Linked DNA regions of Homo sapiens: region 1 is linked to region 2. Evidence: fine-mapped expression QTL. Tissue or cell type: whole blood. Region 2 holds a variant in brackets; the other region holds the start of a gene. All regions are shown on one strand. Distances are between the middles of the regions.

The links. PIP is the estimated chance that this variant, and not a neighbour inherited with it, causes the effect.
Region 1: it holds the start of TYK2, and the variant in region 2 is fine-mapped to the expression of TYK2 in whole blood (TOPMed, PIP above 0.99). The same link has a PIP of 0.9 or more in lung, pancreas, sigmoid colon, spleen, subcutaneous fat and thyroid.

The regions. Positions count from the first base shown.
Region 1 is chr19:10,377,262-10,385,341 of GRCh38, forward strand. TYK2 (tyrosine kinase 2) reads right to left here and starts at 3,311. Exons shown (of 25, transcript NM_003331.5): 1 at 3,119-3,311; 2 at 2,354-2,518; 3 at 953-1,165. The coding sequence starts at 1,145. RefSeq lists enhancers at 3,209-3,368, 3,277-3,940.
Region 2 is chr19:10,349,331-10,357,406 of GRCh38, forward strand. TYK2 (tyrosine kinase 2) reads right to left here. Exons shown (of 25, transcript NM_003331.5): 18 at 7,238-7,388; 19 at 5,182-5,279; 20 at 4,712-4,904; 21 at 4,198-4,316; 22 at 3,596-3,768; 23 at 3,104-3,221; 24 at 1,722-1,832; 25 at 1,203-1,638. The coding sequence ends at 1,504. Among named protein-coding and RNA genes, the nearest start is that of ICAM3, 14 kb to the left of the region's middle. RefSeq lists an enhancer at 3,917-4,680 and a silencer at 4,582-4,631. The variant A/G (reference allele first, on the strand shown) is at 4,681.

The DNA.
Region 1 (8,080 bases), 28 kb after region 2:
AAAGGCAGTGATTTGCAGCTGCCACACAGTAGATGCTTACAAAATGTTCACCGAATGAACGGGTGGATGGATGGATGGATGGATGGATGGATGGATGGATGGATGGATGGATAGATGGATGAATAGGTGGGTGGGTGGGTGGATGGATGGATGGATGGATGGATGGATGGATGGATGGATAGATGGATGAATGGGTGGGAGGATGGATGGGTGGGTGGATGGATGGATGCATGGATAGGTGGGTGAGTGGGTGAGTGGGTGGGTGGATGGATGGATGGATGGATGGGTGGGTGGGTGGATGGATGGGTGGGTGGGTGGATGGATGGATGGATGAATGGATGGATGGGTGGATGGATGGGTGGATGGGTGGGTGGATGGATGGGTGGATGGATGAATGGGTGGGTATGGATGGATCGATGGGTGGATGGATGGATAGATGGATGAATGGGTGGGTGGATGGATGGGTGGATGGGTGGGTGGGTGGATAGGTGGGTGGATGGGTGGGTGAGTAGGTGGATGGATAGGTGGATAGGTGGGTGGATGGATGAGTGGGTGGGTGGATGTATGGATGGATGCGTGGGTGGATGGATGGGTGGGTGGGTGGGTGGATGGATGCGTGGGTGGATGGATGGGTGGGTGGGTGGGTGGATGAATGGGTGGATGGGTGGATGGGTGAAAGGGTGGGTGGATGGGTGAATGGGTGGGTGAATGGGTGGGTGGATGGGTGGATGGGAGGATGGATGGATGCATGGGTGGATGGATGGGTGGGTGGGTGGATGGATGGGTGGTTGGGAGGGTGGATGGGTGGGTGGATGGGTGGATGGATGGATGGATGGATGAGTGGGTGGATGGGTGGGTGGATGGGTGGGTGGGTGGATAGACGGATGGATGGGGCCCAGCTGCTGCTTGCACACCCACCCCAGTCCCCATGGTGCCAACGCCCCAGACTCACCAACTTTATGTGCAATGTGGATGCAGACTTCCTCAGCTGTCAGCGATGACTCACTGAAAGTGACCCAGGGCTCCCCGCCGCCTGGACCAGCCCAGTGCAGAAGCACCTTCAGGCCTCCCATGGCAGCCATGGGCTGGGCTCCATCCCCAACGGGCTTACTGCCCCTGGCCATCCCCCAGTGGCGCAGAGGCATGCTCCCGGCAGGTGGCTCAGCTGGAAAGGGGACAATCTGTCAGCTCCCAAGTCTCAGCCCAGAGACCCCTGTTAGCTCTTCAACCTTCCACCCACCCCAGCTAAGGCCTGAGGGGAAGATTCTGGGCTCCCATCTTGGCATGACATTAGAGACCCGATTCCCTCTCTGAGTCTCGTTTTCCACATTTATTGGACAGGGTTGGGGTATGCATCCCCACCTAGATCTCTCATCAACAATAACACTGAACCCTCCTCTCTTTCCACAAATTGACACAGATATAAAAATCTGCTCTGGCCAGGTACAGTGGCTCACGCCTCTAATCCCAGGACTTTGGGATGTTGAGGCAAGAGGATTGCTTGAGCCCAGGAGCTCGAGACCAGCCTAGGCCATATAGCAAGACCCTGTTTCTACAAGACGTTTTATTTTATATCTTATCTTATCTTATCTTATCTTATCTTATCTTATCTTATCTTATTTTTGAGACAGAGTTTCACTCTTGTTGCCCAGGCTGGAGTGCAATGGTACAATCTTGCTCACCACAACCTCTGCCTCCTGGGTTTAAGTGATTCTCCTGCCTCAGCCTCCTGAGTAGCTGGCGCCTGCCACCACACCGGGCTAATTTTTGTATTTTTAGTAGAGACAGGGTTTTGCCATGTTGGCCAGGCTGGTCTTGAACCTCTGACCTCAGGTGATCCACCCGCCTCGGCCTCCCAAAGTGCTGGGATTACAGGCGTGAGCCACTGTGCCCGGCCTCTACAAGAAATTTTTAAAATTTAGCCAGGCGTGGGGGTGCACATCTGTACTCCAAGCTACTCGGGAGGCTGAAGTGGGAGGATCTCCTGAGCCCAGGAGTTGGAGGCTGCAGTGAGCAGTGATCGCACCACTGCATTCCAGCCTGGGTGACAGAGTGAGACCCTGACTCTAAAAATATAAATAAATAAATAAATAAATAAGTAATAAAAATATATAAAAAGGGCCAGGCGCGGTGGCTCATGACTGTAATCCCAGCACTTTGGGAGGCCAAGGCGGACAGATCACGAGGTCTGGAGATTGAGACCATCTTGACCAACATGGTGAAACCCCATCTCTACTAAAATACAATAAATAAATAAATAAATAAATAAATAAATAAATAAAAAGTAAAATAAAAATCTGCTCTTAACACACCTCCCCAAAATAACCAGACAGGCAGATGTGGTCAAACATACCTGAGGGTGAGTCCTGGAGCTCCCTGTGTCAACTCAAGCAAGCCACTTAGCAATTCTGGGCCTCAGTTTCCCCATCTGGAAAAGGGAGGTCCTCAGGGTGTTGCCATCAAAAGATGGTTGTAATGTTTCAATATAGTTCCGCATATTACACATTCAGCACAGACCCTGATTCAGGCACACACAAAAAGAACAAATATGACCAAAACAAGAATAACATAATTGTTATTAGTTTCATCGTGGTGATGGCCTCTTTCAGGCCACAATTCTCCTCTCCCACATTTACCCCCATGAGTGACCTCAGTCCCTGTTGACTCCCCAAAGCCTAGGAGAGTTTATGTCCAGCTCCATCCCCCCAATCCAGGGCCTGAGCCTCCTGAGGGCGCCAGTATGGAAGTGGAGGGGCTGTCACTTCCACCCATGTTGCTGGTTTCCTCATCTGGAAAATGGGCATGTAACAGTGTCTACCTCAAAAGGCTGCTGGGAGGATTTAACGCGAGGAGGCAGAGAAAGTGCCTGGTATACAGTAAGCGCTTAATTAGCCTTTGCCATTAATACCTATTCATGTTATAGATGAGATCCCGGGGATGGGGCTTTCGCGGAGCCTACTTCCTCCTTCCTCCTTTCTCGTCCCCACTGGACCCAGACCCAGCTTTGAAGACAGGGTCGGAGTGAAGTTTGCAACTGGGAAGGCTGCACGCCCCCATGTCCTCCCCCCAAAACCTCTAAACCCGGCCGGCAACGGCGGGAACTGGGATGTGCACCCACCGGGCATCGGAGCAGTCCCGAGGCACCAGGTGCTCCCATCCAAGTGCAGCCTGTCAAGCGCAGCCAGTCCCCGCGGCTTCTTCCTGAGGACCTCCGGCCGCGCTCCTTCCGCGCCCGCGTCCAGACTCACCCTTCCGGGGGAACACAAGCTCGAACCCGGACCCCTCCCCGCTCCCGCGGGTAGCTACTGCTTGTCCCCCGCCGAGACGCCTCCTCCCATTGGCCGCCTGAAACGCACACGCCCATTGGCAGCTGCTCTGTTCTCCCTGCTCGTCACCATTGGATTTTTTTTTTTTTGCCATGGTGGCGGCACTCTCATTGGTCCTGGGGCTCATTCGTCACTCAGCCGCGATTGGCTGAGTCGGCACCCAGATGCGCTGTCGCTTCTGCTATTGGCTGGCACTCGGTGGACGGAGACGGGGGAGGGGCTTGCGAGAGGCGGGAGGGAGAGCGAAGTGTGTGGGCAACGCGGCCGGATCCTGGAGTTCCCCTCCGTGCTGTGGAATTGGGTCAGGCGTGTACGGTCCTGACCCTAGGACACAGCTGCATGTCCTCACCTCGGTGTTCAAAGCTGCACCGGCCACCATTCAACCCTCCGACGCCCTGCCCTTTGGCTTCCCCGTTCCATCCGGTCCTGTCTCCTTTCCCTCGTTTCTACCTGGCCGACTCCATCCTGCTGACTAGAATTCCCCCTCCTTCACTCCTGGGAGGCATTCCTCGCCCACCTGCCCCAGTCCTCTTCCTGATCACCTGCAGCCCTGTCCTCTGAAGCTCCCTAGCGGTCAGGGTAGCAGCTTGGACATCCCGCCAGACGTGAATTCAAATCCCCACTCCGCAAGTCGTGCCCATTTGCTGAGAAGCCTACAGCCAGAGCGTTTCACATACATTATCTCATTTGATCCTAGCAGCAATTCCCTGTATGGCGGCTCTTATTATCCCCATTTCACAGAGGAAGAAACTCAGGCATGAAGAGGTAACAAAGACCGTCCTCTGACCCTTCTTCTGTGCCACACCATAACCACTCCTCGACTTTGTCTTTCACCTGCCCAGCCAAGTCTTAGCAAAGAAGCCTATTAAGTCATCCGCTCATCCTTGATGTCTGATCAACTTCCTCATCTTCCACTTTTTTTTTTTTTTTTTTTTAAGATGGAGTTTCGCTCTTGTCGCCCAGGCTGGAGTGCAATGCTGCGATCTCGGCTCACTGCAACCTCAGACTCCCGGATTCAAGCGATTCTCCTGCCTCAGCCTCCTGGGTAGCTGGGACAACAGGCGCCCGCCACCACGCCCGGCTAATTTTTGTATTTTTAGTAGAGATGGGATTTCACCATCTTGGCCAGGCTGGTCTCGAACTCCTGACCTCGTGATCCACCCTCCCAAAGCGCTGGGATTACAGGCGTGAGCCACCGCACCCGGCCCTTTTGTTGTTAATTTTTAAATTTTGTGGCTAATTTTTAAATTTTTGTAGAGATGGGGTCTGGCTATGTTGCCCAGGCTGGTCTTGAACTTCTGGCCTCAAGCAATCATCCTGCCTTGGCTTTCCAAAGTGCTGGGATTACAGATGTGAGCTAAGACACCCAGCTCCATGGAGTTGGTCTTAACTGCCATGGCCAAGGGACATGTGGCTGCTTCTCTCTGAGTCAGAAAATATGGGTAAAAAGCCTCCTCACAGGGCAGCTGTGGACATTCAGTATGAAAATGCTGAAAGAGATCGGGAATGGTCTCTTTCACACCTGTAATCCCAGCACTTTGGGAGGTGGAGGCGGGCGGATCACCTGAGGTCAGGAGTTCAAGACCAGACTGGCCAACATGGTGAAACCCTGTCTCTACTAAAAATGCAAAAATTAGCTGGGCATGGTGGTGGGCACCTGTAATCCCAGCTATTCAGGAGGCTGAGGCAGGAGAATCGCTTGAACTTGGGAGGCAGAAGTTGCAGTGAGCCGAGATCACACCATTGCCCTTCAGCCTGGGCAACAAGAGCTAAACTCTGTCTCAAAAAAAAAAAAAGAAAAAGAAAAAGAAAGAAAATGCTGATAGAGGCCGGGCACAGTGGCTCACGCCTGTAATCCCAGCACTTTGGGAGGCCGAGGTGGGCGGATCATGAGGTCAGGAAATCGAGACCATCCTGGCTAAGGCGGTGAAACCCCGTCTCTACTAAAAATACAAACAATTAGCTGGGCGTAGTGGCAGCCTGAGGCAGGAGAATGGCGTGAACCGGGGAGGCGGAGCTTGCAGTGAGCCGAGATTGCGCCACTGCACTCCAGCCTGGGCGCCAGAGTGAGACTCTGTCTCAAAAATAAAATAAAATAAAATAAAATAAAATGCTGATAGAGACTTGTCCTGGCTGGATGCAGTGGCTCATCCCTATAAACCTAGCACTTCAGGGAGCTAAAGAAGGAGTACTGTCTGGGCCCAGTTCAAGACCAACCTGGGCAATATAGCAAGACCCCATCTCTACCCAAAATAAAAAAAATTAGTCTAAGGCTGAAGTATGAGAATCGCTTGAGCCCAGGAGGTGGAGGTTGCAGTGGGCTGAGATCCCACCACTGCACTCCAGCTTGGGCTACAGAGTGAGACTCCATCTCGGGGGGAAAAAAAATTAGTTAGTCCCAGCTACTCCGAAGGCTGAGGTGGGAGGATTGCTTGAGCCCAGGAGGTTGAGGCTACAGTGAGCCGTGATCACACCACTGCACTCCAGCCTGGGCAACTTGACCTCCTGGGCTCTGCTGTATTTTCTTCAGAGTCCTTATTGCAACCTGACATTTCATGGGAAGTTTCTTTCTTTTTTTTTTTTTTTAAAGAGACAGAGTCTTGCTCTGTTGCCCAGGCTGGAGTGCAGTGGCGCAATCTTGGCTCACTGCAACCTCTGCCTCTCAGGTTCAAGCAATTCTCCTGCGTCAGCATCCCCGGTAGCTGGGATTACAGGCGTGCACCACCACGCCTGGCTAATTTTTGTATTTTTAATAGAGACAGGGTTTGGCCAGGTTGGCCATACTGGTCTCGAGCTCCTGACCTCAGGTGATCCACCCGCCTTGGCCTCCCAAAGTGCTGGGATTACAGATGTGAGCCACCGCGCCCAGCTGGGTTTCTCTTCTTTCTTTCTTTCTTTTTTTTTTTTTTTTTTTTTTTTTTGAGACAAGAATCTCGCTCTGTTGCCCAGGCTGGAGTGCAGTGCTGTGATCTCAATTCACTGCAGTCTCAACTTCCCAGATTCACCATTCACAATCTTCCACCTCAGCCTCCTGAGTAGCTGGGACTACAGATGTGCATCACGATGCCTGGGTAACTTTTTTTTTTTTGAGGCGGAGTCTTGCTCTGTTGCTAGGCTGAAGTGCAGTGGCACGATCTCGGCTCACTGTAATCCCTGCCTCCCAGGTTCTAGCGATTCTTCTGCCTCAGCCTCCAGAGAAGCTGGGATTACAGGCGTGTGCCACCACACCCAGCTAATTTTTTTGTATTTTTTAGTAGAGATGGGGTTTCACCATGTTGGCCAGGATGGCCTCAATCTCCTGACCTCATGATCCTCACGCCTCGGCCTCCCAAAGTGCTGGGATTACAGAAGTGAGCCACCGCGCCCAGCCGCCTGGCTAACTTTTGTGTGTGTGTATTTTTTATAGAAATGGGCTTCCACCAACCCCGTCTCTACTAAAAATACAAAAATTAGCCGGGTGTGTTGGTGGGTGCCTATAATCCCAGCTACTTGGGAAGCTGAGGCAGGTGAATCACTTGAACCTGGGAGGCGGAGTTTGCAGTGAGCTGAGATCGCGCCACTGCACTCTAGCCTGGGCGACAGAGTGAGACTCTATCTCAAAAAAAAAAAAAGGAAAAGAAATGGGTTTTCACCATGTTGCCCAGGCTGGTCTCAAACTACTGGGCTCAAGTGGTCCTCCCGCCTTGACCTCCCAAACTGCTGGGATTACAGGCGCATGCCACCACACCCGGCTAATTTTTTAGTATTTTTTAGTAGGGACGAGGTTTCACCATGTGGGCCAGGATGGCCTTGATCTCCTGACCTCGTGATCCTCCCGCCTTGGCCTCCCAAAGTGCTGGGAATACCGGTGTGAGCCACCTCGCCTGGCCGGCTGGCTAACTTTTGTGTGTGTGTAATTTTTTTAGAAATGGGTTTTCACTATGTTGCCCAGGCTGGTCTCAAACTACTGGGCTCAAACTGCTGGGCTCAAGTGGACCTCTGGCCTTGACCTCCCAAACTGCTGGGATTACAGGCATGAGCCACCGTGCCCAGCCCCTGGGAAGTTTCTTTGAGCACAAGTTCTATTGCCTGTCTGCGGTTCTAGGACCGCACCAGAAAGAGGTCCGTCTGGTTGTCTGCTAAGCCCTCAGTGCCTGAGATTGTGCATCCAGCCCAGTAGGTGGCTTAAGAAGCCACAGCTGGAGGGGAATGAATGGCCTGGGAGCCAGGAATCCCTGGCTGTTGTCCTGCCTGCTGCGGGAGGGCTGGCTGTGAGCTTCCTCTCTGTCGCCGCTTAGAGTACAGTACCTAGAAGCCAAGAGTGCCAGATTTTTCTTTTTCCTTTTTTCTTTTATTGAGAGAGGGAGTTTCGCTCTTGTTGCCCAGGCTGGAGTGCAATGGCACAATCTCGGCTCACCACAACCTCTGCCTCCTGGGTTAAAGCGATTCTCCTGCCTCAGCCTCCCAAGTAGCTGGGATTACAGGCATGCGCCACCACGCCCGGCTACTTTTTTGTATTTTTAGTAGAGATGGGGTTTCTCCATGTTGGTCAGGCTGGTCTTGAACTGCCGACCTCAGGTGATCCACCCACCTCGGCCTCCCAAAGTGCTGGGTAATACTGGTGTGAGACACCGTGCCCGGCCTAGAGAGTGCCAGATTTTTCAACAGCCATTGGGGCAATGCTCCGTGATTAGATGCTAGAACACAGTGGGCCGAGTGGGCCTGGGACCCGGTATTCCCCGCTCCCAAAGGAACTAGAAGGAAATGCCACATGA
Region 2 (8,076 bases):
GTGAGCCGAGATAGCACCATTGCACTCCAGCCTGGAGAACAGTGAAACTGCCTCAAAAATAAATAAACAAATAAATAAATAAATAAAAATACGGACAGGATCTCCCTATGTTGCCCAGGCTGGTCTCGAACTCCTGGACTCAAGGGATCCTCCTGCCTCAGCCTCCCAAAGTGCTGGGGTTACAAGCAATGAGCCACTGCATCCAGTCAACAATAATATTGTATATTTATTTATTTAATTATTATTTTTTTGAGACAGAGTCTTTCTCTGTCACCCAGGCTGGAGTGCAGTGGTGCAATCTCGGCTCACTGCAATCTCCGCCTCCTGGGTTCATGACATTCTCCTGCCTCAGCCTCCCGAGTAGCTGGGACTACAGGCACCCGCCACCACGCCCGGCTAATTTTTTTGTATTTTTAGTAGACGGGGTTTCACCGTGTTAGCCAGGATGGTCTCAATCTCCTGACCTTGTGATCCTCGTGGCCTCCCAAAGTGCTGGGATTACAGGCGTGAGCTGCCGTGCCCGGCCAATATTGTATATTTATTAAGCACTTGTTTGCATGTCTTTCTGCTCAGCATTTCACAGACACCACCTCATGAGCTCTTTACATGAGTCCTATGAGATAGCAAGTGTGAAGCTCCCATAATGGAGGACTAAGGCCCAGAGAGGTGAAGCCATTAGCCTGAGGTCACACAAATGTGAAAGGGTGAAACTGGCAGTCTAATCTATGTGGCTTGTGACCGCCCCGACCAAATACTTTGTGTATTCAACAAGTAGTTATTGGCCAGGCGCAATGGCTCACACCTGTAATCCCAGCACTTTGGGAGGCGGAGGCAGGTGGATCACCTGAGGTCAGGAGTTCAAGACCAGCCTGGCCAATAAGGTGAAACCTCAACTCTACTAAAAATACAAAAAATTAGCCAGGCATGGAGGCGGTCACCTGTAGTCCCAGCTACTCGGGAGGCTGAGGCAGGAGAATGGTGTGAACCCAGGAGGCGGAGCTTGCAGTGAGCCTAGATCACGCCACTGCACTCCAGCCTGGGCGACAGAGCAAGACTCTGTCTCAAAAAGAAAAAAAAAAAAAAGTTAAACAGTTGAATCCAGCCACCTCTGCGCTGTCTCATGCTAGCTGCTGTCCACAGGAGACCAGACTCCCAGCTAACCCAGCTTTCTTGAAGAGGGCTCCAAAAATCACAGGCTCCAGCAGAGAAAACATGAGTTTATTACCAGATGGTGGAGATGGTGGGCCTCAAGTTTGGAAGCTGGGGGATTTAAGGGCTGGATTAGTGCCCCTACAAATGTTGGGTCCCTCAAGATCATGGTTAGGCTCACGGCCAAGAAAGAAAAATAAGTTCACAGAGGTGGGGTCTCTAGACAGGAGTAAGGCACACGGTGTGGGTGAGGCTGACATCCCCCTCTTGGTTTCATCCTGGAGCAGGGAGCAGGAGGCTCCCTCTGCAGCCACTGCCTGGTCCAGTCCTCCCAGGCAGGGCTGCCATTGTGCCTCAGCACACGCTGAACACTGAAGGGGCCTGGCCTTGGTACTTCTCATGGACTGTCTTCAGAATGGGTATGAGGTTCTCGAAGGTTGGGCGAAAGGACGCCTCTGTCTCCCAGCAGTTCTTCATGAGATGATAGACCTAGAAGGAAAAACCAGGGCTGGTGGGGGCTGCCCTCTCCACAGCAGGATAGTGGGGTCAGGGAAAGACAAAGGAAGTCTCACCTCACAGGGACATTTGTCGGGCCGTGGCAGCCTCTCCCCTCGTTCCAGCAACTCAGTGAGTCTCAGAACTGTCATCTGACCCTGAGCAATGCCTATGAGCTCAAGGAATTTCTACAGTATAAACAAGACAAGCTCTTTTCAAGAGGCAATGAAAGGCAGGCACGGTGGCTCATGCCTGTAATCCCAGCACTTTGGAAGGCTGAGGTGGGTGGATCACCTGAGGTCAGGAGTTCGAGACCAGCCTGGCCAACATGGTGAAACCCCATCTCTACTAAAAATACAAAAATTAGCTGGGCATAATGGCAGGCGCCCGTAATCCCAGCTACTTGGGAGGCTGAGGCAGGAGGATCGTCTGAACCTGGGAGGCGGAGGTTGCAGTGAGCCGAGATTGTGCCATTGCACTCCAGCCTGGGATACAAGTGTGAAACTCCATCTCAAAAAAGAAAAAGAAATCACTCTGCAACTTCATGAAATCGACTGCATGGGTTCCAATCCCACCTCTTACACTTCTCAGCTGTGTGACTTTGAATTTGAGTTCACTTCTCTGGGCCTGTTTTCTCATCCGTAAAATAGGGTAATAACATCTGCCACCTGGGATTACTGTGAACGTTAAACTAATATTCATAGAGTAAGCGTGAGTCAGGTGTTTGCCGTTATTATTAAGCCTCACAGCAGATTGTTCTTACCGTCCAGAATTTTTTTTTTGAGACAGTCTCTCGCTCTTTCACCCAGGCTGGAGTGCAGTGGCATGATCTCGGCTCACTGCAACCTTCGCCTACCGGGTTCAAGCAATTCTCCCTGCCTCAGCCGCCTGAGTAGCTGGGATTACAGGCACCTGCCACCACGCCCGGCTAATTTTTGTATTTTTAGTAGAGACGGGGTTTCACCATGTTGGCCAGGCTGGTCTCGATCTCCTGACCTCGTGATCTGCCCGCCTCGGCCTCCCAAAGTGCTGCGATTACAGGTGTCAGCCACCGCGCCCGGCCTATGCCTTTCTTTCCTTTCTTTTCTTTCTCTCTCTCTCCGTCCTGTCCTGTCTTAGACGGAGTCTCGCTCTGTCACCCAGCTGGAGTGCAGTCGGGAGATCTCGGCTCACTGCAAGCTCCGCCTCCCGGGTTCATGCCATTCTCCTGCCTCAGTCTCCTGAGTAGCTGGGACTACAGGCGCCCGCCACCACGCCTGGCTAATTTTTTTTGTATTTTTAGTAGAGACGGGTTTCACCGTGTTAGCCAGGTTGGTCTCGATCTCCTGACCTCGTGATCCGCCCGCCTCGGCCTCCCAAAGTGCTGGGATTACAGGCTTGAGCCACCGCGCCTGGCCCAGCCTATGCCTTTCTAATTGCTCTAGCAAACTCCCGGTGGGGCTGCGGGCCTGGCTCTCACCGTGGGGGGGCTCTGGCTGGAGTCACAGTGCGTCAGCAGCTCATACAGGGTCACCCCGAAGGACCAGACATCTGACGCATAGTAGAACTTATACTCCTTCAGGCACTCTGGGGCATACCTAGGGGGAGGGGGGCACTCAGGCCACGGGGGGCTGCACTGAGGGCTTGGGGATCAGACCAGGCTGAAGCCCTCACCTGAGACTGAAGGACCCTCTGGGCTCAGTTGGGACCCACCCTTAAGAGCGCAGCCTGAGCGGGGTGATATGCTCATTGGCTAGGCCGCTCATTGGCTAGGCCGGGTTAACCCCGCCCACCAGGCCAAGCCGCACTCTATACACCGCCCCTTGCCTCCATAGGCCCCACCCCCGCACCGCTAGGCCCCGCCGCGCTTCACTGGGATCATGCCCTATCATGATACCCAGCATCCGTCTACTCCACCCTGCCTGTTCCAAGTGACCCCAGCACCCCCTCAGACTGCACCCCGCCTGGTCACCAGAACACGGGGCTGTCCCCATCCTCGCGCACGCGGTAGTACTCGTGGCCTTCGGGCACGGCCTTGGCTAGGCCAAAGTCCCCGATCTTGACCAGCCTGTCGTTGTCCAGCAGCACGTTGCGCGCGGCTAGGTCTCGGTGGATGTAGTGCTGCGCGTGCAGATAGGCCATGCCCTGGGGACGGGGCAGGGCTCGTGAGTTTCAGTGGGGCGGGGTTCGGCCGGGGGCGGCGGCAGGACCTGAGCAGCCAGGAGGGCTGGGGGACAGTCAGGTCAGGCCGGTGGCTACCCGGCCGCTGGAGAGGGCCGGATGGCACGTGGCACCAAGCAAAAGGAGGCTGAGCCAGAAAGCAGGGACGGGGCTAGACGAGCAAAGCTGGGCAGGAGGGCGAGTTGGGAGGGGCCGAGCCGGCTGTGCGTGGTCCCTTGGGAGGAGGGGGTGTGGCCAAGCAAGCCAAACAGTTCGGAGGTCAGTGCAAGGACAAGACAGCCTGGGCAAACGAGCAGGGGCGGAGCGTGAGAGCAGACTGCACCGGATCGCTCAGGCCAGCCCAAGCTGAAGAGGAAGGGGCAAGCTCCAGAAGCAGGGGCGGGGCCGACCAACCTCGCAGATCTGCTGGGCGAAGAGCAGCAGCTGGGCCAGCCCGATGCTGTGCCGGGGCAGGTAGTCTCGGAGGCTGCCCAGGGGCACGTACTCCATGACCAGCTGCAGCGACTTCTCGCCTGCCGCGGAGAGGGGCGGCCCCGGTGGGGGACGATAGAGGGCGGGCCGGGGACCGCCTACCTTGAGCCCAGCAGAGCCCCTCCAAGGTCGGGAGGGAAGGCCAAGACCCGCGCACACTAGACCCAGTTCTCAGGTGGGATGGACCCATCCAGAACCCCATTCTCACTTGAGGGAGCTGCTGGTGGCTCCCGTCCATCCTGGCCCCAGCAGGTAGCACCCCCCAGATGGGAAGGAGGCAGCCCAGCCACGCTCACCCAGATGCCAAGAACCGCGTACTGCAGCCTGGGGTTGAGAGTCTCTAATTGGCTAGGCCAGACTGGCCCCGCCCACAAGGCCACACCCACGCTCTAACCACGCCCCCTC[A/G]AGTCTCTAGGACTCGCCGGGTCCCGCCCACCTTGGTCCTCGCAGCAGCCCTTGTACTTGATGATGTGCTCGTGGTAGAGCGTGCGCAGAATGTCAATCTCCTGCTTCCAGCCCGAGCGGTGCTGGGGGCCGCAGTCTGCCTTGAGGGCTTTCACCGCCACCATCTCGCCAGTGCCGTCGTTGGTCGGATCGTAGCAGTACAAGCTGACCTTGCCGAAGTGACCCTGGTCGGGAGCGCACGAGGGTCAGCTCCACCTCCCCAATCCCTGCACCACTCCCCAACCCCCGATTTCCCGGGCCACTCCTCCAGGCAGATCCTTTCGGAATACCCCAGGCCCCGCCTACTCCGCTCTATTAAGACTCCTTGGCACCTAGGCCTCCCTCAAAGCAGAGGGTCCCACCCACATCTCCTGAGAATCACCTTAGGTAGGAATTTATCCTCAACCCCCAAACTCCTTCCCGACCAGGCGGGCCTTTTAGCAGCTCAGGCCCGTCCCTCACCTCGCCCAGATCTCGGATCTTTTTCAAATAGCGCTTGTGGAAAACCGTAGGGTCCGACGCCGGTGAGTCCGGGTTCACAGTCAAGACGTCAGCAAGATCTGGAAGAGTTGCGGTGGGTAAAGGCCTGACCCCGATCCTTTCCCCAGCAGGCCCACACTTGGGAGTCACAAAGCCAGCCACAGCTACCCCAGGATCCGATTCTAGAGGTAAGAAAACTTTTTCCTGCAACAGCTGAAAGAGTCCACTTATTGTACAAAATGATGCAGAGTTGGCTGCATCAAAACTGACACCTGTTTGGGAGGCCGAGGCGGGAAGATCACTTGAGCCCGGGAGTTCAAGACCAGCCTGGACAACATGGTGAAACCCCCTCTCTACAAAAAAGTTAAAAAAAAAAATTAGCCAGGTGTGGTGGTGCATGCCTGTGGTCCCAGCTACTCAGGAGGCTGAGGTAGGAGGATCGTTTGAGCCCAGGAGTTTTGAGGCTGCAGTGAGTCTGGGCCACAGAGAGACACTGTCTTTAAAAAAAAAAAAAAGAAAGAAAGAAAGAAAAAGAAAAAACAGAAAAACCTGACATCTGGAAGTTCCGAGATTGGGTAGAGGGCACAGATATTTCATAGAGAAAAGAGAAAAACTGGCCAGGCGTGGTGGCTCACACCTGTAATCCCAGCACTTTGGGAGGCCGAGGCAGGAGGATCCCTAGAGCCCAGGAGTCTCAGGCTGCAGTGAGCCATGATCGTGCCTCTGAATAACCACCACACTCCTGCCTGGGCAACACAGCAAGACCTAGTCTTTAAAACAAAAAAGAGAAAGAAAAATGTGATATGACCAGTTGAAAATGGCATATTAGGCCGGGCGTGGTGGCTCACGCCTGTAATCCCAACACTTTGGGAGGCTGAGGAGGGTGGATCACCTGAGGTCAGGAGTTTGAGACCAGCCTAGCCAACACAGTGAAACCCCGTCTCTACTAAAAATACAAAAATTAGCTGGGTGTGGTGGTGGACGCCTGTAATCCCAGCTACTCGGGAGGCTGAGGCAGGAGAATTGCTCGAACCCAGGAGGCGGAGGTTGCAGTGGGCCGAGATCGTGCCATTGCACTCCAGCCTGTGCAACAAGAGCAAAACTCCATCTCAAAAAAAAAAAAAAGAAAGAAAGAAAAAAAAAAAGAAAATAGGTCAGGCGCAGTGGCTCATGCCTGTAATCCCAGCACTTTGGGAGGCCGAGGCGGGTGGATCACGAGGTCAAGAGACTGAGACCATCCTGGCCAACATGGTGAATTCCCGTCTCTACTAAAAATACAAAAATTAGCCCGGCGTGGTGGTGGGCGCCTGTAGTCCCAGCTACCCAGGAGGCTGAGGCAGGACAATTACTTGAACCTGGGAGACGGAGGTTGCAGTGAGCCAAGATTGCACCACTGCACTCCAGCCTGGCAACAGAGTGAGACTCCGTCTCAAAAAAAAGAAAAAAGAGCATATTAATTTTTTAAAGAGAACAATACAAAACTTTTTTAAAAAGAAAAAAAAAACTGCAGTGGTCTAATTCTCTAATCCAAAGAAGTTGTGTCTCTCCCCAGACAAAACATTAAGGAGGCCAGGCGCAGTGGCTCACGCCTGTAATCCCAGCAATTTGGGAGGCTGAAGCAGATAGATCATTTGAGGTCTAGAGTTTGAGACCAGCCTGGCCAACATGGCAAAACCCCACCTCTACTAAAAATACAAAAATTAGCCGGGCATGGTGGCACACGCTTGTAATCCCAGCTACTTGGGAGGCTGAGGTGGGAGGATTGCTTGAACCTGGGAGGTGGAGGTTGCAGTGAGCCAAGATCACGTCACTGCGCTCCAGGCTGGGTGACAGAGCAAGATTCCATTGCAAATAAATAAATAAATACATTAATGAGAGCTCAGGGCAGCCAGGCAGGGCATGCTTATGAATGCCACTGCAAGAAATTGGCACACACCCTGAACCACTGTGCAGAGACCTCTCGTGCGCTATAGGCATACAGCAGGGATCCCAGCCCCGTCCCACTTCCCCAGGGTCCCAGCACTGGGATGGAGCTCACTGTGGGGCTGCAGCCGGGTGAGGTCACGCAGGATGGTGCGGAATGATGGCCTCTGGGTTGGCTCATAGGTCAGACACTGGCTGGTGAGTGTGGCCAGCTGTGGGCAGGAGGGCTCGGGCAGCCGGTGCTGCCTCTGGTAGAAATGCTCCTTCTGTTGGGAAAGGGACCCAGAGGAGTCAACATCCTCCCCTCGCCCCCAACCCGTTCCCCAAGAGGCAGAGTCAAGTCCCCAGAGTGGACCGCCAGGTGCCCGCTCTTATCAGTTCCATTATACAGATGAGGCAACTGAGGCTCCACAAAGTGGGAGGACGTGCTCACAGCCGTAGAACCAGGACTGGGACCCAGGTCCAGTGATTATGCAGAGCTGGAGTGTCACAGTCAGCCTCCTGCCCCAAGCTTCCCTCCTGCCCCTCCTGTAGACCACAGCTCCTTAATACACTGAAGCCTCAGCCTTTGCACAGGCCATGCACTCTGCCTAGGCTGCCCTTCCTAGCCAGGCTTGTTGGCATAATTCTACACTTAGATAAAACCTCTTCTGGGGCCGGGCACTGTGGCTCATGCCTGTAATCCCAGCACTTTGGGAGGCCGAGGTGGGCGGATCACCTGAGGTCAGGAGTTTGAGACCAGCCTGACCAATATAATGAAACCCCATCTCTACAAAAAATACAAAAATTAGCCGGGTGTGGTGGCATGTGCCTGTAATCCCCCCTACTCGGGAGGCTGAGACAGGAGAATCGCTTGAACCCAGGAGGCAGAGGTTGCAGTGAGCTGAGATCACGCCATTGCATTCCAGCCTGGGCAATTAGAGTGGAACTTCGTCTCAAAATAAAACCACCACA